Linked DNA regions of Homo sapiens: region 1 is linked to region 2. Evidence: fine-mapped expression QTL. A gene starts in region 2. The other region holds a variant in brackets. All regions are shown on one strand. Distances are between the middles of the regions. Region 1 overlaps BRD7 (bromodomain containing 7). Region 2 holds the start of BRD7 (bromodomain containing 7).

Region 1 (8,000 bases), 30 kb after region 2:
CTTTGCCCACTTTTTGATGGGGTTGTTTGATTTTTTCTTGTAGATTTGTTTAAGTTCTTTGTAGATTCTGGATATTAGCCCTTTGTCAGATGGATAGACTGTGAAAATTTTCTCCCATTCTGTAGGTTGCCTGTTCACTCTGATGGTAGTTTCTTTTGCTGTGCAGAAGCTCTTTAGTTTAATGAGATCCCATTTGTCAATTTTGGCTTTTGTTGCCATTGCTTTTGGTGTTTTAGTCATGAAGTCCTTGCCCATGCCTATGTCCTGAATGGTATAGCCTAGGTTTTCTTCTAGGGTTTTTATGGTTTTAGGTCTAACATTTAAGTCTCTAATCCATCTTGAATTAATTTTTGTATAAGGTGTAAGGAAGGGATCCAGTTTCAGCTTTCTACATATGGCTAGCCAGTTTTCCCAGCACCATTTATTAAATAGGGAATTCTTTCTCCCTTTCTTGTTTTTGTCAGGTTTGTCAAAGATCAGATGGTTGTAGATGTGTGTTATTATTTCTGAGTGCTCTGTTCTGTTCCATTGTTCTCTGTCTCTGTTTTGGTACCAGTACCATGCTGTTTTGGTTACTGTAGTCTTGTAGTATAGTTTGAAGTCAGGTAGTGTGATGCCTCCAGCTTTGTTCTTTTGGCTTAGGATTGACTTGGCAATGCAGGCTCTTTTTTGGTTCCATATGAACTTTAAAGTAGTTTTTTCCAATTCTGTGAAGAAAGTCATTGGTAGCTTGATGGGGATGGCATTGAATCTATAAATTACCTTGGGCACTATGGCCATTTTCACGATATTGATTCTTCCTACCCATGAGCATGGAATGTTCTTCCATTTGTTTGTATCCTCTTTTATTTCATTGAGCAGTGGTTTATAGTTCTCCTTGAAGAGGTCCTTCACATCCCTTGTGAGTTGGATTCCTAGCTATTTTATTCTCTTTGAAGCAATTGTGAATGGGATTTCACTCATGATTTGGCTCTCTGTTTGTCTGTTATTGGTGTATAGGAATGCTTGTGATTTTTGTACATTGATTTTGTATCCTGAGACTTTGCTGAAGTTGCTTATCAGCTTAAGGAGATTTTGGGCTGAGACGATGGGGTTTTCTAAATATACAATCATGTCATCTGCAAACAGGGACAATTTGACTTCCTCTTTTCCTAATTGAATACCCTTTATTTCTTTCTCCTGCCTGATTGCCCTGGCCAGAACTTCCAACACTATGTTAAATAGGAGTGGTGAGAGAGGTCATCCCTGTCTTGTGCCAGTTTTCAAAGGGAATGCTTCCAGTTTTTGCCTTTCGGTATGATATTGGCTGTGGTTTTGTCATAAATAGCTCTTATTATTTTGAGATATGTCCTATCAATACCTAGTTTATTGAGAGGTTTTAGCATGAAGGGCTGTTGAATTTTGTCAAAGGCCTTTTCTGCATCTATTGAGATAATCATGTGGTTTTTGTCTTTGGTTCTGTTTATATGCTGGATTACGTTTATTGATTTGCATATATTGAACCAGCCTTGCCTCCCAGGGATGAAGCCAACTTGATCGTGGTGGATAAGCTTTTTGATGTGCTGCTGGATTTGGTTTGCCAGTATTTTATTGAGGATTTTTGCATCGATGTTCATCAGGGATATTGGTCTAAAATTCTCTTTTTTTGTTGTGTCTCTACCAGGCTTTGGTATCAGGATGATGCTGGCCTCATAAAATGAGTTAGGGAGGATTCCCTCTTTTTCTATTGATTGGAATAGTTTCAGAAGGAATAGTACCAGCTCCTCTTTGTACCTCTGGTAGAATTTGGCTGTGAATCCATCTAGTCTTGGACTTTTTTTGGTTGGTAGGCTATTGCCTCAATTTCAGAGCCTCTTATTGGTCTATTCAGGGATTCAGCTTCTTCCTGGTTTAGTCTTGGGAGGGTGTATGTATCCAGGAATTTATCCATTTCTTCTAGATTTTCTAGTTTATTTGCATGGAGGTGTTTATAGTATTCTCTGATGGTAGTTTCTATTTCTGTGGGATCAGTGGCGATATCCCCTTTATCATTTTTTATTGCATCTATTTGATTCTTCTCTGTTTTCTTCTTAGTCTTGCTAGTGGTCTATCAATTTTGTTGATCTTTTCAAAAAACCAGTTCCTGGATTCATTGATTTTTTTGAAGGGTTTTTTGTATCTCTATCTCCTTCAGTTCTGCTCTGATCTTAGTTATTTCTTGCCTTCTGCTAGGTTTTGAATGTGTTTGCTCTTGCTTCTCTAATTTTTTTAATTGTGATGTTAGGGTATCAATTTTAGATCTTTCCTGCCTTCTCTTGTGGGCATTTAGTGCTATAAATTTCCCTCTACACACTGCTTTAAATGTGTCCCAGAGATTCTGGTATGTTGTGTGTTTGTTCTCATTGGTTTCAAAGAACATCTTTATTTCTGCCTTCATTTCGTTATGTACCTGGTAGTCATTCAGGAGCAGGTTGTTCAGTTTCCATGTAGTTGAGCGGTTTTGAGTGAGTTTCTTAATCCTGAGTTCTAGTTTGATTGCACTGTGGTCTGAGAGACAGTTTGTTATAATTTCTGTTCTTTTACATTTACTGAGGAGTGCTTTACTTCCAACTGTGTGGTCAATTTTGGAATAAGTGCAGTGTGGTGCTGAGAAGAATGTATATTCTGTTGATTTAGGGTGGAGAGTTCTGTAGATGTCTATTAGGTCTGCTTGGTGCAGAGCTGAGTTCAATTCCTGGATATCCTTGTTAACTTTCTGTCTCGTCGATCTGTCTAATGTTGACAGTGGGGTGTTAAAGTTTTGCATTATTATTGCGTGTGAGTCTAAGTCTCTTTTTAGGTAACTCAGGACTTGCTTTATGAATCTGGGTGCTCCTGTATTGGGTGCATATATATTTAGGATAGTTAGCTCTTCTTGTTGAATTGATCCCTTTACCATTATGTAATGGCCTTCTTTGTCTCTTTTGATCTTTGTTGGTTTAAAGTCTGTTTTATCAGAGACTAGGATTGCAACCCCTGCCTTTTTCTGTTTTCCATTTGCTTGGTAGATCTTCCTCCATCCCTTTATTTTGAGCCTATGTGTGTCTCTGCACATGAGATGGGTTTCCTGAATACAGCACACTGATGGGTCTTGACTCTTTATCCAATTTGCTAGTCTGTGTCTTTTAATTGGAGCATTTAGCCCATTTACATTTAAGGTTAATATTGTTATGTGTGAATTTGATCCTGTCATTATGATGTTAGCTGGTTATTTTGCTCGTTAGTTGATGCAGTTTCTTTCTAGCCTTGATGGTCTTTACAATTTGGCCTGTTTTTGCAGTGGCTGGTACTGGTTATTCCTTTCCACGTTTAGTGCTTCCTTCAGAAGCTCTTGTAAGACAGGCCTGGTGATGACAAAATCTGTCAGCATTTGTTTGTCTGTAAAAGATTTTATTTCTCCTTCACTTATGAAGCTTAGTTTGGCTGGATATGAAATTCTGGGTTGAAAATTCTTTTCTTTAAGAATGTTGAATATTGGCTCCCACTCTCTTCTGGCTTATAGGGTTTCTGCTGAGAGATCTGCTGTTAGTCTGATGGGCTTCCCTTTGGTGGGTAACCTGACCTTTCTCTCTGGCTGCCCTTAACATTTTTTCCTTCATTTCAACTTTGGTGAATCTGACAATTATGTGTCTTGGAGTTGCTCTTCTCGAGGAGTATCTTTGTGGCATTCTCTGTATTTCCTGAATTTGAATATTGGCCTGCCTTGCTAGGTTGGGGAAGTTCTCCTGGATAATATCCTGAAGAGTGTTTTCCAACTTGGTTCCATTCTCCCCATCACTTTCAGGTACACCAATCAGATGTAGATTTGGCCTTTTCACATAGTCCAATATTTCTTGGAGGCTTTGTTCATTTCTTTTCACTCCTTTTCCTCTAAACTTCTCTTTTTGCTTCATTTCATTCATTTGATCTTCA[A/G]TCATTGATACCCTTTCTTCCACTTGATCAAATCGGCTACTGAAACTTGTGCATGCATCACGTAGTCCTCGTGCCATGATTTTCAGCTCCATCAGGTCAGTTAAGGTCTTCTCTACCCTATTTAATGTAGTTAGCCATTCGTCTAATCTTTTTTCAAGGTTTTTAGCTTCTTTGCAATGGGTTCAAACATCTTCCTTGAGCTCAGAGAAGTTTGTTATTACTGATCGTCTGAAGCATTCTTCTCTCAACTCATCAAAGTCTTTCTCCCTCCAGCTTTGTTCCGTTGCTGGCAAGGAGCTGCGTTCCTTTGGAGGAGAAGAGGTGCTCTGATTTGTAGAATTTTCAGCTTTTCCGCTCTGGTTTCTCCCCGTCTTTGTGGTTTTATGTACCTTTGGTCTTTGATGATGGTGACATACAGATGGAGTTTTGGTGCGGATGTCCTTTCTATTTGTTAGTTTTTCTTCTAACAGTCAGGACCCTCAGCTGCAGGTCTGTTGGAGTTTGCTGGGGGTCTACTCCAGACCCTGTTTGGGTATCACCAGCAGAGGCTGCAGAACAGCAAATATTGCAGAATGGTACATGTTGCTGCCCGATCCTTCCTCTGGAAGCTTCATCTCAGAGGGGCACCCAGCTGTATGAGGTGTCAGTTGGCCCCTACAGGGAGGTGCCTCCCAGTTAGGCTACTCGGGGGTCAGGGACTCACTTCAGGAGGTAGTCTGTCCGTTCTCAGATCTCAAACTCCATGCTGGCAGAACCACTACTCTCTTCAAAGCTGTCAGACAGGGACGTTTAAGTCTGCAGAAGTTTCTGCTGCCTTTTGTTCAGCTATGCCCTGCCCCCAGAGGTAGGCTCCACCCAGTTCGAGCTTCCCGGTGGCTTTGTTTACCTACTCAAGCCTCAGCAGTGGTGGGCGCCCCTCCCCCAGCCTCACTGCTGCCTTGCAGTTCAATCTCAGACTGCTGTGCTAACAGTGAGTGAGGCTCCGTGGGCATGGGACCCTCTGAGCCATGCGCGGGATATAATCTGGTGTGCCATTTGCAAAGACCATTGGAAAAGCACAGTATTAGGGTGGGAGTGTCCTGATTTTCCAGGTACAGTCTGTCACAGCTTCCCTTGGCTAGGAAAGGGAATTCCCCAACCCCTTGTGCTTCCTGAGTGAGGTGATTCCCTGCCCTGCTTCGGCTCACACTCTGTGGGCTGCACCCACTGTCCGACAAGCCCCAGTGAGATGAACCCAGTACCTCAGTTGGAAATGCAGAAATCACCAGTCTTCTGCATCACTCATGCTGGGAGCTGTAGACTGGATCTGTTCCTATTCGGCCACCTTGGAACCTATCACTACACACTTTCAAACAACCAGATCTTGTGAGGACTCATTATCACAAGAACAGCAAGGGGGATATCTGCCTCCATGATCAAATCACCTCCCACCAGGTCCTTCCCCCAACATTGGGGATTACAATTCAACATGAGATTGGGGTGGGGACAGAGAGCCAAACCATATCACATGTACTCTAAAGTAAAGAATAAATTGGCTTGTCCAGAAATACTAAAGAGAAGTTTAATTACATTTTCTAATTTGATGAAAGTTAATTGCTCTCTGAGTTCATTTTGGCTATATTTGTTGAGCATATTTTCTTCAGCTTTAAGAAGAGTATAGAAAATTTACAAGGACCTGAAAACTTATAATATATATACCTATTATAGATGAGGTTTTTCCCATTTGAGGGAGTGTCCTGGTGTGTGTTGATTCCAGGGAAAGGAACCATGTATATTAAAATTTACTATGTATTCAACCGCCACAAACTTAATTGGTTTAGATAATATCTGTTTTACCTCTACTTTGTTTTACATAACCACAGTAGTGCTCACCTGACCTATAAGGGTTAGACCCTAATTGGTTACCCTAATTAGTTATTTTCCTAAAAATAAAATAAGATAGTGTCTTTATGGCCAGGTGTGGTGGCTTACACCTGTAATCCCAGCACTTCCGGAGGCCGAGGCAGGTGGATCACAAGGTCAGGAGATCAAGACCATCCTGGGTAACACAGTGAAACCCCGTCTCTACTGAAAATACAAAAAAATTGGCTGAGTGTGGTGGCGGATGCCTGTAGTCCCAGCTACTCGGGAGGCTGAGGCCGGAGAATGGCGTGAACCCAGGAGGCAGAGCTTGCGACAGAGTGAGACTCCATCTCAAAAAAAAAAAAAAAAAAAAAGACAGTGTCTTTACTTAGTCCCTTTTTTCATCCACATATTGATAAGCAGAGATTTATGAAGAATATCAGTGTTTAGTGCTCTTTACTGTTGAGTTTATAGGTAATATTCCACTTTCTCCAAAGAATCTGAATTACATTCTCTCTTATTTCGAGAAATAGAAACTTTTCCCAACTTTTTATCTGGTGAAAATTAGGCTAAAACCGTTTATTTCAGCATATTTCTGACCTTACCATTGCTTAATGGGAAAGAATTTCACAGTTTTTTGTTTTTTGTTTTTTTTCTGCATGATTTTCCTCTGATCTTTCTCTTACAGTAAGAAGAGTAGAAGTGTGTCCCCAGAGTGTTTTTAAGCAGGTTAGGGTTTATCATAATTGAAAGGAATTGGTATCTTAGCTCTTTAGAATTTCTACGTTGCCACTTTTTTCTAGGGAAAGCTCAACGGCCTAAAGTAATATTTATTCAGTTCATTTGGCAGTTGAAGTAAAATGTGTGTGTGTGTGTGTGTGTGTGTGTGTGTGTGTGTGTGAAAAGTGTGCAGGAAGACTCAGCTTTTTGAATGACCAGTGCCATCACCCACAGTTCAGTAAAGCCCAGCACATTATGTTAAGATTTAAGGAATCTACAAATTGGCTTAATAGATCAGTCCTGTGTTCATTAGAACAATTCAGTACTCTTGCCAGTTCATAGGCCCATTATCTGGCCAATTATAGGCCAAATGGTCACTTAGTTTGAGTATATATAGTAATCTAGTATCTCCGTTCACTTGCGTCCCATCCCCCCAAATACATATTTAATTTTTTTTTTTTTTTTTTGAGACCGAGTCTCACTCTGTTGCTCAGGCTGGAGTGCAGTGGCATGATCTTGGCTCACTGCAACCTCCACGTTCAGGGTTCAAGCAATTGTTGTGCCTCAGCCTCCCAAGTAGCTGGGACTACAGGGGTGTGTCACCACACCCAGCTAATTTTTTTGTATTTTTAGTAGAGACGGGGTTTCACCATGTTGCCCTGACCAGTCTCAAACTCCTGGGCTCAAGCAGTCCACCTGCCTCGGCCTCCCAAAGTGCTAGAATTATAAGGGTGAGCCACTATGCCCAGCCTAGTAATTCTTAATGGCCTGGAAGCTTTTCCAAATATCTGTAACAAAGGTCTTTAATCTAGGGTCCTTTGGATACCATAATGAGCCTTTAGAGGGACCAAGAACCTACTAAAATTACATGAAGACTTTTGTGTTCAGCTGTGTGTGTGTGTGTGTGTGTGTGTGTGTGTGTGTGTGTGTGTACTTAAGGTCTGGTCCCATAGCTTTCATCAGATGCTTAGAGATCCAAGACCTGGCATATTTACAGTCATGGCCCAAACTGAAGATCCACATATACTTCATCCACTTTAATACCAAATTTATTGCGACCCTTCACTCAGTCTTACGTACTTGTACATAGAACTCAGTCTACTTATTTTTGTTCTATTTAAGTGTTCTAACCTGTCATCACTATTAAATAGTGGAATTTGAATTTTTTTTGTTTTTTAAACAAATTTGTAGGGGGCAGATTCTCTTTTCTTGGGTTTTTCTTTCAACTTAGTAAGGCCTTGGCATAATGAATCGCACATTTATAGATGTAAAAATTACTTAACTATGAAAGCATGCAGTGGGGTCAAGTTCTCCAGCACATAGCGGACTTGGAAATTTAAGCCAAAAAGACAGTTTTGGTAATTTGGCTACTCCAGTTACATGTTTTAACTCCTTGAGGTTGTATGGTTTATTTCACATTGGCATGGTTTTGCAACATTCTGCAAATTATGTTTAGTTTATGATAGTATCCAAACACATAAAAGTAGTGTAAATGTTTTAACATTTTT
Region 2 (17,050 bases):
AACCAGATTCCAGTCACAGGCCCACCTCTGAACCAATCATTGGTCCTGGCAGCTGTGATACTCTCACTGGCAGGCCTGGGTCACATGCTCACCCCTGAACCAATCCTCACTGGCCCTCGCGGCTGTGACACTCTCATTGGCAGGCTTAGGTCATGTGGGGAGAGGAGGCTCTCTAAGTGGAAGTCAAGAGGCTGTTGCTAGAGAAAGTGTTTATTTGGTGCCCAATGGGCAGAAATAACTAGTAACATCAAGGCTTCTCTCTGCCTATGTCCCAAGATGGTCACTTGGGTCTGAAAAGCCTGAGAAACCTGCTGACGCAGAAGAGCAGCCTTGGAAACCTAGCAAAAAGGGAAGGCCTGGGACATACCAAGAGTCCAGACAACCAAAAGGCCCACAGGAGGGGTCAGCAGGACCGGGGCAGATCAGACAGGTGCCAGAGGCAGGCGACCACTCTGCACAGTTACCACCAGAGGGCAGCTGGCCAGGAGGCAGGGTAAACAGGAAGAGGTCAAGTAGCCTTGGGGAAACTCTGTACCTTGCCTGAGGCATGGCAGATAATAACACTGACTACTCACCCTTATTGAGCCTGGCCCTGTCCTAAGCATTTTTATGCATCAACTCAATGAATTATCACCAATGAGATTGGTACATTTATAACCCCATTTTACAGATGAGGAAGCCAAGGCTTTCAAGTAACGAGCCCAAAGTGTCATACGGCAGAAAGGGGGCAAGTCACGCGTCTATTCCACCAAACCCTGAGCCTCCTGAGGTTAGGGGCTGTGTCTTGTTTGTATCTGAAGTCCCTGTGGACCCTAACAATCACTGTGCTTAATGGATATCTGGTGAAGTGAAAGCCTGGGGCAGGGGGCGCTGTCACTGTGTTCTCCACCCTCCCCACCCTCCCCATCCCAGGAGGAAATTACCAGGCTCAGTTCAGGCAATACCCCTTCCAGGTGTGCTGACCTTGGAAGATGATTCTTAGACCTTGCCCTTGCTCTGTTGTAATGGACTCTCAGGCACTACAGTACTCACATCAGTAGAAGAGAGAGTTTGAGATTTTGCAAAGGCTTGACAACTCCAAAGTCTCATGGTGTAGGTCACTTATTTTTGTTTGAGGCGGTCTTGCTCTGTTGCCCAGACTGGAGCACAGTGGCACAATCTTGGCTCACTGAGACCCCCACCTCCAGGGTTCAAGCAATTCTTGTGCCTCAGCGTCCCAAGAAGCTGGGATTACAGGCATGTGCCACCATGCCTGGCTAATTTTTGTATTTTTAGTAGAGACAGAGTTTCCCCGTGTTGGCCAGGCTGATCTCCAACTCCCGGCCTCCAGTAATCCACCAACCTAGGCCTCCCAAAGTGCTGGGATTACAGGTGTGGGCCACTGCAGCCGGCCTGTAGGTCACTATTTATGCCTCTCCCAGGAGTAGCTGGCTGTGCAGTTGGGGGGAAGAGGAAGAACATATTTAATGTGAATTCATTCATCATCCTCCACTGGGCTCCCATGGTGGGCCAAATACCATGTTGAGTGCCTTGAGGGGGACAGAGGGAAGCATGACAAAACCTCCTCTCTCCAATCCCCTCCTGGGAGGAGAAATAAGTCACTGCCAGAAGGAAGAACACAGAAGGAAGTCCTGCCTTCCACAAGAGAGGACTTCAACCGTCTAATCATTTGGGCAACAAAAATGTATTAGGTACATGTCAAGTGCCAGTGAACAAAACAGAATAGACTCAGCTCTTGCCCTCAGGAAGTTCTCAGTCTTATGGGAAGGCAGACAATAGACAAATAAATACGGAATTGCAAATGTGATGTGTTTTATCAGAAACAGAAAAACCACAGGGTGCTATAAGAGAAACTAAAAGAGGTCCGGGTGCAGTGGCTCACGCCTGTAATCCCAGCACTCTGGGAGGCCGAGGCAGGTGGATAACCTGAGGTCAGGAGTTCAAGACCAGCCTGGCCAACATGGCGAAACCCCGTCTCTACCAAAAACACAAAAAATTAGCTGGGTGTGGTGGTGAGCACCTGTAATCTCAGCTACTCGGGAGGCTGGGGCAGGAGAATCCCTTGAAACTAGGAAGTGGAGGTTGCAGTGATCTGAGATCTCGCACCTGAACTCCAGCCTGGGCGACAAAAGCAAAACTCCATCTCAAAATATATATATAAATAAAGACAGAAACTAAAAGGGGACTTGTTGGAGCAGTTTAGGGTTGCCTTTCTGAGGTGGTGAGAGATGAGAAGAGGCCAGCCATATGAAGAGTGTGGGAACAGCATTCCAGAATAAGGGAATAGCATGTGTGAAAGGCCTGCATGGAGGAAGAGTGTGGCATGTTCAAGGGACTAAGATTAGGCAAATTATGTCTGGAGATTAGTGGGTAGAAGTAGGCAGTGGCAGAAATCGGGGTCAGAGAAGAGCACGAGGTCAGGTTACACTGAGCCTTGTAGGCTTAGGAAAAAAGCTTGGGCTTGATCTGAGATGGGAGACCCCCCAAAGGGTTATGAACAGGACGATGATGTGGCCTAATCCAATCTATAATCTATGTTTTTGTTTTTATTTTTGTAACGTACCACCACCCACAGAAAAATCCATGTGTTTTGTTTTTAACAGAGATGGGGTTCTCACTATCTTGCCCAGGTTGGTCTCAAACTCCTGGTCCTCCTACCTTGGCCTCCCAAAGTGCTGGGATTACAGGTGTGAGCCACTGCCCCTGGCCCGGAAATCTGTGTATTTCAAAGTCACTCTGGCTGTGGTGGGGAAAGTGGATTTATGGCGGAGCAGAGTGGAAGCCAGGAAATATGGCAGCTCTTGCTGAGTCAATAGCCAGGGTGCACAGATGAGGGGCTATTCCTTCCTCATAGCGGGCTCTGGGGAGGCTTTCAGAAGCAGATTTTACCCCAGGTGAAAGAGGGACAGGCAGGCAGGAAGGAGAAGGCTGTATTCCCCACTCCACTCACTTTTCTCCTAAATAAAGGGGAGAAAAAAGTTTTTCCTTTTTCTGCCTCAGAAACTATAAAGAGATGCCCATTCATTGGTGCCTTCCAAAATGCCTATGTGTAGACTTAAACAACAATAACAACAGAACATCAGCAGTTCTGAGTGCAAATAATTCAATGATGTTGTAAAATCTGGCATAAATAGATCTGGCTGAGCCTCACAACTTTTCTTCCGGGGCTGACAATGTCAGCAACTCCAAGTCTGAACCCCTACTGGCTCTGAAAGGCAAGATCACAGTAGAGAGAGGAGGAGAAAACGCCCCTGGGTTGCATTTCCCCAGCAAATGGGCATGTTTGCCTCTCTGAGGAGCAGGCCAAGCATCAGCCAAGCCGACTGGAATTGGATTTGTAGGAAAGAACCTTTCTACCAGTTCTTTATCAGTGACCAGTCTCATGGGGGACAGGGTGAACATTTTGTGAAGCGTGTTATGTTTGTTAGCAGCAAGGTGCCTCGGGGCTCCTGTCAGCGCCAAGTAACAGGGCTCTGAGTAATTGGGCTCGGGGCTCCCCTCAGTAATAGGGCTCCAAGTAACAGGTAACAGTGCTCATCATTTACTTCCTCCTCTCATTGGGCCCTCACAACCTGCTCATTCTCAAGGCAGGTAGAGAAACTGAGTTTAGAAACAGGTGTTTGTTTTGTTTTGTTTTGTTTTGTTTTGTTTTGTTTAATGCTTGGTTACTTTGGGTACAGCATCCATTCTCCAATCCTCTGGTCACAGTACCCTAATTTTTCTAAGGGATCCCAACTTACTTAGGCCATGTGGTTTAGGTGGCACTCGTCTCCCTCCCAAGCTCCTGGGTTAGAAGACCCATGGTCTAGGATTCACTTGTCCCTGAATTCTGCCACCACCTTGACCACCCTCCACCCACATCCCACCCCTTCATGGTCATAGGCTCTAGGTGGGTACATGATATAAACCAGTCCAATCACATAGCCCTGTGACTTTTGATGGGCCACTGGGGAAAGGCACATTCCCTTTTTTTCTGGACTGGGATCTATGAGGATATCATCTGGGAGCTTCTAGAGGCCAATGGAGCCTGTCTGAGGATGGGACCAGGGCAGAAGGAAGTAGACCAGAGAGAGAGAAAGCCTGAATCTTGGGGACATCATTTGAGCACCTGGATATAGCCACACCTGAAGCTCAACCTCATTAGGGATGGGTTTCTGACTGTCACATGGAGGCCAAGCAATGCAAGAATGAGAACCAGGCTTTGTGATCTCCAGTTCAGTGTTCTTCCCCTAAATCAAGTTCCAGCTGACTTTATCCAGCCACACAACAAGCTCAACTAATCTGTGTGTGGCTTTATGGTCTGCTAAAAGATGTGTATTTTAAAAATAAAAACATCTGATCATTATAATGTTTTATCTAACCGAATTACAGAGCCGTGGAAGGGCCCCTGGAAGTCCTATCACTGAGTGGTTTTCAAAGATTTTCAGCAGCTTCTTGTTTCAAATGAAGTTTTAAGCAGAATGCCTATGTGTGAGAAATAAAAGCAGTAGCTTGTTAGTGCAAATGTGTTTTATCTTTTACGTTAAAAGTTCTTAACATTTGGCTGGGCACAGTGGCTCACGTCTGTAGTCCTAGCACTTCAGGAGGCCAAGGCAGGTGGATCACCTAAGGTCAGGAGTTCGAGACCAGCCTGGCCAACATGGGGAAACCCTGTCGCTACTGAAAATACAAGAATTAGCTGGGTGTGGTGGTGCATGCCTGTAAACCCAGCTACTCGGGAGGCTGAGGCAGGAGACTCACTTGAACCTGGGAGGCGGAGGTTGCAGTGAGCCAAGATCATGCCACTGTACTCCAGCCTAGGAGACAGAGTGAGACTCCATCTTAAAAAAAAAAAAAAGAAAAAAAAAGTTCTTAACATTTACTTTTTACAATCAATGAAGACCCAAATGTCAATGTGTTATTCATTTCCAATGTATAAAATTTTATTATATATTTGCATGTGTGGGAGGTTTTCAATCACTTTTTAAAAATTATTTATAATTGATACATAATAATTATACATATTTATGGGGTACAGAGTGATATTTTGATACATATATGCAATGTGTAATGATCAAATCAGAGTAATTAGCACATCCATCACCTTACACATTTATTATTTCTTTGTGTTGAAAACATTCAAAATCTTCTTTTCTAGCTATTTGAAATATACAATAAATTATTATTAACTATAGTCACCCTACAGTGCCAAAGAACACTAAAATGTATTCCTCCTATCTAGCTAAATATCCATCAGCAGACGAATGGATAAAGCAAATACACAGTGGAATACTACTCAGCCTTAAAAAAAGAAGGAAATCCTGTTGTTTGAAATAACATGGGTGACCTGGAAGACACGACATTAAGTGAAATAAGCCAGGCACAGAAAGAGAAATACTGCAGGATTAAAGGCTAAATCCTTTGCCCTCACTCATATGTGGAAGCTAAAGGAGTTGATCTCATGGAAGTAGAGGGTAGGCTAGAGCAGGAAGTAGGGTAGTAACTGGAGGCTGGGAAGAATAGGGAAGGCAGATAGAAAGAGGTTGCTTAACACACATCTATGCCAAGACGAAGAGAGAGGAGCTGAGCCACGTCCTGGCGGCCATGAAGAAAGCAGCTGCCAGGAAGGACTGAGCTCCCTGCCCTCTGCCCAAAATAAAAGCTTCACAGGAAAAACAAAAACAAAAAACAAACAAACACAAAAAAAAGTTGGTTAATGAATACAAAATTACTAGATAGAAGGAATAAGTTCTAGCATTCTATCACTGTTCTTTTTTAATAGTTAAAAATACTTTTTTGGGAGGCCGAGGCTGGCAGATCAGGAGGTCAGGAGGTCAGAAGATCGAGACCATCCTGGCTAACACGTTGAAACCCCGTCTCTACTAAAGATACGAAAAATTAGCTGGGCTTGGTGGCGGGCACCTATAGTCCCAGCTACTCGGGAGGCTGAGGCAGGAGAATGTCATGAACCCAGGAGGCGGAGCTTGCAGTGAGCCGAGATTGCACCACTGCACTCCAGCCTAGGCAACAGAGTGAGACTCAGTCTCAAAAAAAGAAAAAAAGAAAGAAAAAGAAACTTTTTAAATAATTGGGGTAAACGCCAGGTGCAGTGGCACACGCCTGTAGTCCCAGCTACTTGGAAGGTTGAGGCAGGAGGATTGCTTGCACCCAAGAGTTCAAGGTTGTTCTGCACTACGATCGCCCCTGTGAATAGCCACTGCACTCCAGCCTGGGCAACACAGCAAGACCCCATCTCTAAAATAAATGAATAAATAAAGTAAATGAAAAGTCCCTCAGATATTTTCCATCTTTCTGTGGGCTTATGAGTTAAAAAAAAAAAAAAAAAAAAAAAGAACCTTTTAGTTTATCTGGTTTTGTCAAAGGGTCTCCTTTTGATGTCTAGTTGTTCCAACTTCAGAAATGTTCCCTTTCTCTTGTCCAAGAAAATTAAGTCTAAGTATAAGCTAATGTTCCAGAATAGTGCTTCTCAAACTTTAATACACATATATGAATCACCCAGGAATCTTGTTTAAAATGTGAATTCCGATTCTACAATCCTGAGGTGGGACCTGAGACTCTGCATCTCTACCAAGCTCCCAGGTCCTGCCAATGCAGCCGTCCCTGGACCAATCTTTGAGTAGCCAGGCTCAATAAAGGGGTATCATGAATCTATCCCCTGAGGCAGGGAGAAAAGAATCACCACCAAACTCTAATAAAAAAAAAAAAAACACCACTGGAGAATATCTGGAATGACATATACCAAACTATTACAGAAAGTGGTGAGATTATGAGCAATTTGAAATATCTTCCTTACACCTATTTGTATTTTCAATTGGTCTATAACAAACATTAATTACTTAGGCAATAAATAGGTTTAAAACTAAATAACTGAATCAAGAAAAACCTAAAATACACACATATTTTTAAAAACAAAGTCTTTATCAGACACTGACAGAGCGTCAGAAGTGCTTCCCTAGAACCAACAGCTTGAAAGCAGCCAGTCGAGTCCTCTTTCTTTATCTTTTTACCTTTTTTTTTGTTTTTGAGACAGGATCTCACTGTGTTGCCCAGGCTGGAATGCAGTGGCACAATCATAGTTCACTGCAGCCTTCACCTCTTGGTCTCAAGTGATCCTCCTGCCTCAGCCTCCTGAGTAGCTGGGACCACAGGCATGCACCACTACACCTGGCTAATTTTTAATTTTTTATAGAAATGGGGTCTCGCTACGTCACCCAAGCCAGTCTTGAGCAATCCTCCCACCTCAGCCTCCAAAAGTGCTGGGATTACAGGCATGAGTCAGCGCATCTGACTGACTCCTCCTCTTTCTGCAGCCCTGTTTAGATGGAGATAGGGGAGAGACATGTCCAGGTTTCACAGCCAGTCTTTGGCAGAGCCAGGACTATGAAATTAGAGATCTGGGTGACATGGCACAAGCCCACAGCCACAGTCTGATAAGAGTTTATCAAACACATAGTGACTTTCTGTGAAGGGAATTTAATCCTGGGCCCCGTCCGCAGGGCAGTACTCCAAGGAATCATGATGGACCGGGAGCCCGGGCCTGCAGGATCATTTCTGAGCTGCTCATGGTCTGTCCCCAGCCTGGGGCTCCTGGAAAATGCCCAGCTTTCTCCAAGGTGACCATTTCATCTGGTTTATCCCACTTTACAGGGGGAAGTCCACACCCCACAGCCTGTCATTCAAGGCCTCAGTGTTCCCTTCTGTATCTCTGTCTCATCACACCTCCCACTCTCCAGCATCACCTCAGTGGCCTTGCATGCACAAGTCTACTTGTCTGATCCACCCTCCCCCAGCCCTTCCAGTGCTTAGAGGCTCCCTGCAGCCTGGCCGAGCTTTCCTTCCTCTACACACTCTCAGCCCGCCACTGCCCTCACCTGGCTCCAGTGCTCTGTCCTCCCCTGCTGGGTGTCCTACTCTCCTGCTTCTCCTCCTGCCTCCCTCCCCCTCCTCAGTCTCCTCTGCTGCTTCCTCATCCTTTATTCACCTGTTAGATAATATTGAAGCTCTTCAAGGCTCCATCTTCTCTGATCACTCTACTCTCTCCTCCTGGGTGGTCTCATTCACTCCTGAGGTTCCAAAGACATCTCTATGCCAAAAATCTATTTTCAGGTCTCACCTCCCTTCCAAGCCCCAGACACATGCATTCACCTTCCTACTTGGATTCTCCTCTTGGGTTCTGCATAGGCATCCCTAACCCCTCCTAAGTTCTTCCTCCTACATAACTCTTGAATTATCCCATTGCACCATCCCCACATCATCCACGCTAGACCAAGCCACCCCCATCTCCCCTTTGAAGACCACATCACTTCTAAGCTGGTCTCTCTGCCCGGTCTCCTAACCCACTCCAATTCTTCCTTCATTCAGAAGCCAAAGCGCTCTTGTTAAATTGCCAATATGGCCATGCACCCACGTCCACTGCCTTCATGGGCATCCCAAATAAAATCAAGCATCTCTGCCATGCCTTGAAAAGCTCTGCCCAGCCCAGCCTTTCTTCCAGACACAGTCCCCATCATCTCTCTTGCTCCAAACCTGCTCTCCTCTCCTCCCTGACTGCACCCAACTTTCCCTCGCCTTTGCACATGCTGACCTCTCTGCCTGTTTAGTAGATGCAGCTGATGCCCCCTTGGCTCACCTCTCCTGAAGGCACATCCTGCTGGAGGGGCATCACCAGCAGCTGGGAGTGTTGGCCACTCACGGAAGGCAGCCGCACACCTCCCTCAGAGAATTGCCCTGGGACAAACTAGAGTCACCTCTGTAATAGGCGACAATCAGGCAGACCTCGCTGCCCACCATGGGCTACAAAAGGCCAGCCACCTCCCACAGGGTGGGACTGTTCCCTGGACAGTTGATGTTCCCAATCCCCCCTCGCCCCGCCACCACTGTGGCACGGGGCTGAGGCTGGGACCACCTCTTTCTCTGCTTCTACCCACCCCGTCCTGCTTCTCTCCCAGCTTCTCCCCAATTGCCACCCCAACAGATCCACGCCTCAGGTTCCACTTGTAGGGCACCTAACCAAGACTTATCCTCCAGGTTAGGCCTGGATGAGCCCTCAGCCTGGGTCAGAGCACTATCTGGACAGCAGCTTGCTGTTTTCCTTTCTAACCGTTAGCATGGCCATGATTAAATATTTGTCTGTGTTCTCTGTCTAACATGCATCTCACTGTGCTCTCCATAAGGGCAGGGCTGTGTCTATTTTACTCCCACCGTGTTCCTAGCACCCCCCAGCACATAGTAGGCACACAGAAAATATGAACTGAAAGAAGGAAGGAAGGTCCTGATGTTGCCTCTGTCTTATTTGATCAAGGGCTCTGAGGCTAAATGACTTTTGGGGTTGGCAGCCGTGAGTGTCATGGCTTGGGCTCGCTGCCCTCCAGTAAGCAGCTCTGAGACCGTGTGGGCAGAGGCCATGTGGCATGCCTGCGTGGATGGCGGCCATCCACCGCCTCTCTCTTTTCCTCACTCAGAGGCAGCAGCTGGGGCTGCTCCGCCAGTGACCGTGAGCAACCCTGGAAGCTGCACTGTCAACAACCTGTCATAGCGAATCACCCCAGGCCACTGATTCCCCACAGAGCTGCCTGCTGAACCAGCCTCAGCCTCTTGAGGCCTCTCCCAGCAGCACTCACAGGCTGGCATCAGGCTGGCACCAGGAAGGCCCAGACCTGCTCCTGGTGCCAAATGAGGCACTAGCTGGAGCTGCTGGGAGCCTGGGCTCAGGGGATGCCACCTCCCACCCCAGGACAGAGGGCAGGAATCCCCATGGAGTATCCAGGAGAACCGGCCCTTTCCCACCCACCGTCTGCCCCATTACACTTGGGAAGGCCTGTGTTGTGCCAGAACATTTCTCACTCCTTGCTTTTGCTAACCCTCATGCCAGCCACACAGGCTGCATGAGGCTGGCTCTGCCCATCCCTCAGAGGAGAAAACTGAGATTCAGACAAAGGAAAGCAGGAGAAGAAGTTAGTAGCCCAAGGATTCTCTCCGTCTCAGGAGTTCCCCATCCTGCATCAGTGCTGCATAAGGGGGCTTTGAGGAGTACAGCCAAACAGAGGCGAGGGGGCTCAGAAGCCCCTGATGTTTGAGGCTTTTAGTCTGTCCAGATCATAGGTCAGCACCCAGCAGCCCTCTTTCATTTGTTGGCTATAGGGGAATAGCTATAAAGGGTTCCCAGTGGGTGTCCCAGAACCAAGGCCCCTGAGTTTCGCCCAGCCCTCATCCCACCCAACCAATGAAGGCCACACTCTACCTCAGGGTCAGGTGGCAAGGACATCAGCTGTGTCCCAGAGCGTCCTCTCTGTCAGAGCACCAAGGCCTGAAGGCACCCTGGGCAACAACTCCTCAGCAGAGAGGCCAGGCTGAAGAGGGGCCACCTCCAAGCTGAGCTGCGCAGAGATTTCCTGGGCATGCCACACCCCCCAGTGGCCAGGCTTTCTCCTCCACAGACTCTCCCGGAGGGCTCCAGTCACCTCGTGTCTCCACCAGAAAGGGGAGGAAGGAGGAAGAGAATTATTATCACAACACAGTAATTATGATGTATTCATTTGTCCAACAAATATTTCTCCAGGGCCTGTGCTGAGCCCAGCTCTGTGCTAAGTGCGGGGCACACAGCCAGGAGTGAGACAGACCTAGTCCCTAACCTTGGGGACCTGGGAAGCCAGTGGACAGATGGTGGACACGCACACAGATAGGGAAGAGATATTCAACATAATTTTGGAGGCTGTAGGTGCAATGGAGAGAAACAAGGCATTGCACAGGCTGAGGGAAGAGGGGAAGGGGTGTGTGGGTTGGTGGTCCAGAAGCTTCTCTGAGGTGGTCACAGGGGAGACCAAGGTGATGTGAGGGCAGGAGCCACTCCAGGAGCTCAGGGGAGAGTGTTCTGAACACAGGGAAGAGAAGCAGGGGCTTGGGGCAGGAGGGAGGAGGGGGCAGGGGGATGGGGCTGGAAAGAGAATGAGGGCCAGATCCGGCCCTGAAAGCCAAGGTGCAGATTTGGCTTTGACTTCGAGTGAGACAGGGAGCCACAAGATGGTTTTGAGCAGGAAAGTGACATTCACAAATATTTAAAAGTTAGTATTAGCAGCTGATATTTATTGACCATTTACTATCTACCATATCAGGCATTACTCTCGGCACTCTGACCACATTATCTTCTTTGATCCTTACAACCACCCTGTTGCAGCAGCACACCCAATGACCTCACCCTGGTTCCAAGGTTCAGAGGTAGGCAGCCCTCTCAGGACATGCCAAAGTCACAGACCCTGTAAGCATCTGTGACCCCAGGACTCAAGTCAGCTCTGTCTCACTCACTCAAGAGCTGTTGGGCTGTTGGGGGAGAAGTCTGGGCACAGCTTAACTGGGGCCTCTGCTTCTGGGACTCTCACAGGGCTGTGATCAGGATGTCAGCCAGGGCTGAGGTCTCATCTGAATGTTCCACTGAGGAAGGATCCACTTTGAAGCTCACACAGTTGCTGGCAGGATTCAATCCTTCAAGGCTGTTGGACTGATAGCCTCAGTTGTAGCCGGATGTCAACTGGGGCCCAGCCTCAGGTCTTTGTCACATGGGCTTCTCCAGCATGGCAGCTTACTTCATCAAAACATGCAAGCCAAGAAGGCAAGAGAGACGGTCAGCAAGTAAGACTGAAGTCTTATGTATCCTCAACACAGGAGTGACGTCCATCATCTTTGCCATATTCTATTGCTCTGAAGCCAGTCTCCAGGCCATTCTACACTCACTGGGAGGTCATGAATGGCAGCAGGCAGAAATCTCTCAGGGGAGTCTGCCCGAACCAGGACCGTGCAGCTCAACTAGCATTTTCTGGTGCCTTCTATGTGCCAGGCATGGTATTAGTGCTGAGAATTTAAAACTAGATGAATTTGGGCTTCCACTTCCAGGAACATTTTTCTGGGAGGTGTTTTCTGCTACGTACTCTTATTCACTTTCCATTGATGTGACCACTTTGTGACCTATGTAGAATCACTCTTGAGAGGGTAGGGAAATTACTAACTTGATAGTATGGATGAGTTCACCAGACCTTTTTCCTCTGAGGGGCATTTGGACAGTAGTAGTCACTGTGCTAGGCACTGTAAGTACCAAGGAGGTACCCAGGGTAATGAGGAGCAGACAGGTAAACCCACAGGTTGAGCCTGGAGCAAGGCAATGCCACAATAGAGGCCAGACCCACAGTGGGAGTTGGCATAGTGGTTCTTAAAGCAAAATAAGTTACAGACAGTGGATGAAAAGCTGAAACCAAGCTTTGCCCTATGCTTAGGGGGCCTAGGGGGCCTAGCTGGCTTGATTTCAGAGCAGCAGAAGGTCTCTTCCCCAACACAACCCCTCTTCCCACACCCTGATCTCTGCCTCACGGACACCAGAGAGGCTTGTTACAGGGAAATAATAGACACACACTTTTAGCTTTCATGAAAAAGCAACTCTCTTCATTAGAAGAACCTCATCTTCCCTGGCTAACCATAGAAGTCTGGCAGGAGCTGCCAATCACAGACTCCACTTCTCTTGGCCAAGGGGGTGAGGGGGTAGATTTGGCATCCAGGCCGAATCAATCTCCCATCCCCTGTCCCATAAAACATGTGACACAAGCCAAGCCAATCAGAGTCCTTCCCTGGGACTGTTTTCCAGGTGAAGCTGACAGGAAGAGATCTTTTTCCCAGTTGGTCAGGACACTATAAAGAAGAGGCCTCAGAAGCAGATGGTGGCCATGTTTCCAGCCATATAGGAAAGAAGGGGGGAGATGGAGACCGATATACAGAGAGACAAGAGAGAGAGCGAGCTGGCATGCCAGTCAACAGCATTACATCCTTGGTTCCTGTCTTCCCTCTGGCAAGCTTTATTCTTGCCCTTTCTAGACATGTAAACCAATAAATCCCTTTTTATTTACTTGAAATAATTCAAATTGGTTTCTATTAGTTGCCAACAATAGGGTCCTAAAATATAAGCCTATAATTTCACCACTGAAGTTCAAGGTAAAGCTACAAATCTTCCTGGGAGAGGTGATTCATGGGTCTAAATTGTTACTAAAGTATAAATGACTGATAACAGATCCTTTCTTAAGAGGAGACTATAATTACGAGCTTATCTGAAAACAGACAAAGCACCATACAGCTAGAAGTAAAGACAGTCAAAACGTCTGGTAACCTTCACCTATCAGCACATAAGTTTTTTTTAAGATTAGAATCTTCAGTCACCAATGTGCTGAGTTTGCTGGGTCTGGCACCCAGTATGGGGTTCAGTCAATATCGTAAAAGGGAAGAAACAGAAGCAAGGGAAAGTGGAAAGAAAGGAAGAGTGGGGGAAGGAGGAAGGGGAAAAAAAGAAAAGAAAAAAAGAGGGAAGGAGACGGGAAGAGGAGAAGGAAGGGTGATGAGGGAGGAAGAAAAGAGAGAAGGAAGGCTTGAAGGGAGGCAGTAAGGAGGGAAGAAAGAAAGGAAGGAAGGAGGAAGGAAGGGAAGAAGGGAAAGAGAAAGAAAGAGAGGGAGGGAGTAAAAAGAAGGGAGGGAAGTGGAGACGGAGGGAGAGACACACAGAGACAGAGACAAGACAGACAAATTGAGGGGAAAGGGAGGAAGGAAGAAAGACGAGAGTCTGAGCGGTGGATCCCGCCCCGGCCCCGCCCTCGGCCCCGCCCCCGGCCCGCGAGCTGCAGCACCACCTCCGGTCGCCAGGGGCCGCCACCCGCAGCCGCCGGCACCCTGTGCGCGCGGCGGGCCTTCTTTCCCGCCTCTGCGCCGGCCGCGCGCCCCCCCCGCCGCCGCTCTCGGGCTCCGGCCGGGTCTCGCGCGCCGTCTTCTCGAGAGGGGCATCGCGCCGCCCGGCGCGCGCCGCCCCCCTGCCTCGCGGCGCGGGGTCTCGCGGGCCCCGCTCCCGCCCTCCGCTCGCCTGGCCCGGACCGGAAGCGGCGCCGCACGGCCTGGGCCTGGCGCGGGGGGCGGGCACCGGGGCCCGGTCGGACATGGGCAAGAAGCACAAGAAGCACAAGTCGGACAAACACCTCTACGAGGGTGAGGAGGGGGCCGGGGTGCGGGCGGCGGGCCCTCGGCGGCTCTGCCGGGCTTCCGCTCTTTCCCAGTGGCTCCGGGGCGGCCCGGGGCCCTTCCTTCCCACGGCAGGCCCAGGCCGGCGAAGGGGGCGCGTCCTGCCGGAGGCCGCGCTGCCCCCCGTGCGGCCGCGGCATTCGAACCCGGGTCCCCCTGGTCCGGTGGGTCTCTGGTGGGGAGACGTGAGGCGGGCCCGGGAGGCCTGGGAGCGTTCGGGGCGGGCGGCGCCGCCGCACCCCCGGGCCGGGGTCCGTCATTCAACAGGTGCTTCGCGGAGCGCCCAAAGCCGCCTCGGGCTTGCTGCGCCTTGGCGCTCTGCATCCTTAGCACTCCCTGGAGAGCCCCGATTTTAATCGACGCGCTTTCCTTTCTTTTCTTTTCTTTTTTTAAGAGTATGTAGAGAAGCCCTTGAAGCTGGTCCTCAAAGTAGGAGGGAACGAAGTCACCGAACTCTCCACGGGCAGCTCGGGGCACGACTCCAGCCTCTTCGAAGACAAAAACGATCATGACAAACACAAGGACAGAAAGCGGAAAAAGAGAAAGAAAGGAGAGAAGCAGATTCCAGGGGAAGAAAAGGGGAGAAAACGGAGAAGAGTTAAGGTACAAGTGGTTACATTGCTTTGGCTTTGCGGACGGCACTGCCTCTTCCAGGTGCCAACCTCATTTTATTTTCTTTGTATCTGGGGAAAACAAACGCCTCTAAGATCTGGCTCGTTTGAGGAGGAGCAGGACAGAATAGAGACATGAATCATCTATGAGTTTCAGCAAGTCGTTTTTGGATTATACTCTTAGGCAATTGTACTCGCACATCAGGTGAGGAAGCAGCTAAGTCCAAATTTTGAGGAGCTGCTTCAAAGAATGGTTTTTCCATCTAGGCAGGGTAAAAAGTCATGCTCAAGAAAGCCTCAGTGTTCAAGGATTGTCAAAAATAGTCATTTCAGAAGCGAGTGGGATCTACTGGGGTTTAAAGTTTGTTCTGAAATAAATATTATAATGCCAAATCTGTAATGAGCAACTTTAAATCTTTTAAAACAGTGTTGTAGTGTGTTGAGAAAATTTGGTCAGAAACCTGTAATGGAGATTGATATTCTTAACCATTTGCATTTAACAGAAAAGAATGAGTAGCTACCATCTTGGTTTGAAAGCTGGGCAAAATAATAATTAATGGCTGGGCCCAGTAGCCCACACTTGTAATCCCAACACTTTGGAATGCCGAGGTGGGAGGATTGCTTGAGGCTGGAAGTTCGAGACCAGCCTGGGCAACATAGCAAGGCCCTGCCTCTGCAAAATAAACTACAAAAATTTCCAGAGCCTGGTGGTGTGCACCTGTGTCCCAGCTATTCAGGAGGCTGAGGTGGGAGGATCCCTTGAGCCCAGGAGTTTGAGGTACAGTGAGGTATGATCATACCACTGCACTCCAGCCTGGGCAATAATACGAGACTCTGTCTCTAATAATAATAACATTGTTATTACTGTTATTAACTTTCCAAATTTAACCTGCCACTGAACGACTTATTACATCAATTATTGTGAAGGTAAATTTTCATAGGTTAGTTATGTAATTTTTCTTATGTTTATATATACAAGAGGAGCTTTCTCTTCCATGTGATTGAACACATTGCTAAGTCACCAAGTCTTAGAGATCTTATTTTGGGGATTTCTTAAGTCTATTCCTTCCCTTTTGTCCCAGTTTTTATTACCTTTGGCTAGGTAGGAGTAATGTTTTGTTTTCTTCCTTAAATTATAAAACCCATATATGCATTTGATTTTTTAAAAGTAGTTCATGTGGTGCAAAAGTACACAAAATGGAAAAAGTTTTCCTCACCCCAATCCTTCACATAGACTCCCTCTTCAGAGGTAACCAGTTGTTTTTTTTAATTAATAGTAGTAAAGTAATTCGTGAAGATGATTTTTAAAAGTCAAGAGTACTACACAGCTTTTTGACACAAAGCAGGCTGCTGCTCCACTCTGGACACTTTTTAGGTATTTTTCCTTGCCTACTTATTTCTATTTCAAAATAAAGGTTTATATTGCTATTTACTGATTTAGCAGTTTATATCTTCTACTGACATCATGTTATGGAAGATGAGAATTCAGTTTCCCTTGCTCAAGGTATAGGTACATCACAATTATTGGTTAAATCAATATTAAAGTGATTGTAGACAAGTATAGTATGCAAATATAGATCTGATCTTAACTAGTTAGATCATTGCTTTCATTTGTTTGGTTATTGCTTAATAATTCTTCCCAAACTCTAAGATTTATGAAACTCATTTGAGTTCTTTACTTCCTTTTTTATTTTCCTCTGGAGACATTTATCTTACAGCTTTCTGTCTCCTGGAGGCTGAATTAGTTGCTGTCAAGGCCTCCTGGGACTCTCCTTCACCTGCTTCCTGGATCTCATGCCTTCCTCTTTCTTGATTCATTCCCTTGTTCTGGTGGACTCTTAACTCTAGGAACGTCCTAAGAAAGCATACACGGGGTAGATTTTATAAGTTCTAACATGTTTGAAAATCTGTATTCTGCCCTCATACAGGTTGATGGTTTGACTTGTTTAGATTGAAAATTATTTTCTTTCAGACTTTTGAAGGCATTGCTTTGTTGTTTTCTGGCTTCTAAATTTGCTGTTGAGAAGTCTGTTGCCATTCTGATTCTTAGTCCTTTGCATATGACCAGTATTTGCTAACTTGAAATTTTTAGGATCTTCCCCCCTTATCTTCAGTGTTCTGACATTTCACAATGAATACTTGTGCCTTCAGTTCAGAGCTGTGTGCTTGAAGTATTCCTGTGTTCATTTCTTTCCCTCCATTTTTTCTTTTCTTGGTTTCTGGAACTCCTGCCCTTTAGATATTAGACTCCTGAACTGATCCTCTAATTTTCTTATGTTTTTCTCATATTTTTTCTGGGTGTGTGTGGGGTGGGGGAGGGTTCTTCCTTCAGGGAACATCCCTAAAATTTCTGACTTTTCCAGATTTATTTCAGATCTTATACCTTGAATTTCCAAGAA

What was found. PIP is the estimated chance that this variant, and not a neighbour inherited with it, causes the effect.
Region 1: its variant is fine-mapped to the expression of BRD7 in whole blood (INTERVAL, PIP above 0.99).

The regions. Positions count from the first base shown.
Region 1 is chr16:50,340,602-50,348,601 of GRCh38, reverse strand. The region is part of intron 5 of BRD7 (bromodomain containing 7); the gene reads left to right. Among named protein-coding and RNA genes, the nearest start is that of BRD7, 24 kb to the left of the region's middle. The variant A/G (reference allele first, on the strand shown) is at 3,931.
Region 2 is chr16:50,365,683-50,382,732 of GRCh38, reverse strand. BRD7 (bromodomain containing 7) reads left to right here and starts at 13,745. Exons shown (of 17, transcript NM_013263.5): 1 at 13,745-14,007; 2 at 14,435-14,643. The coding sequence starts at 13,959. RefSeq lists silencers at 7,701-7,995, 13,567-13,816, 13,847-14,356.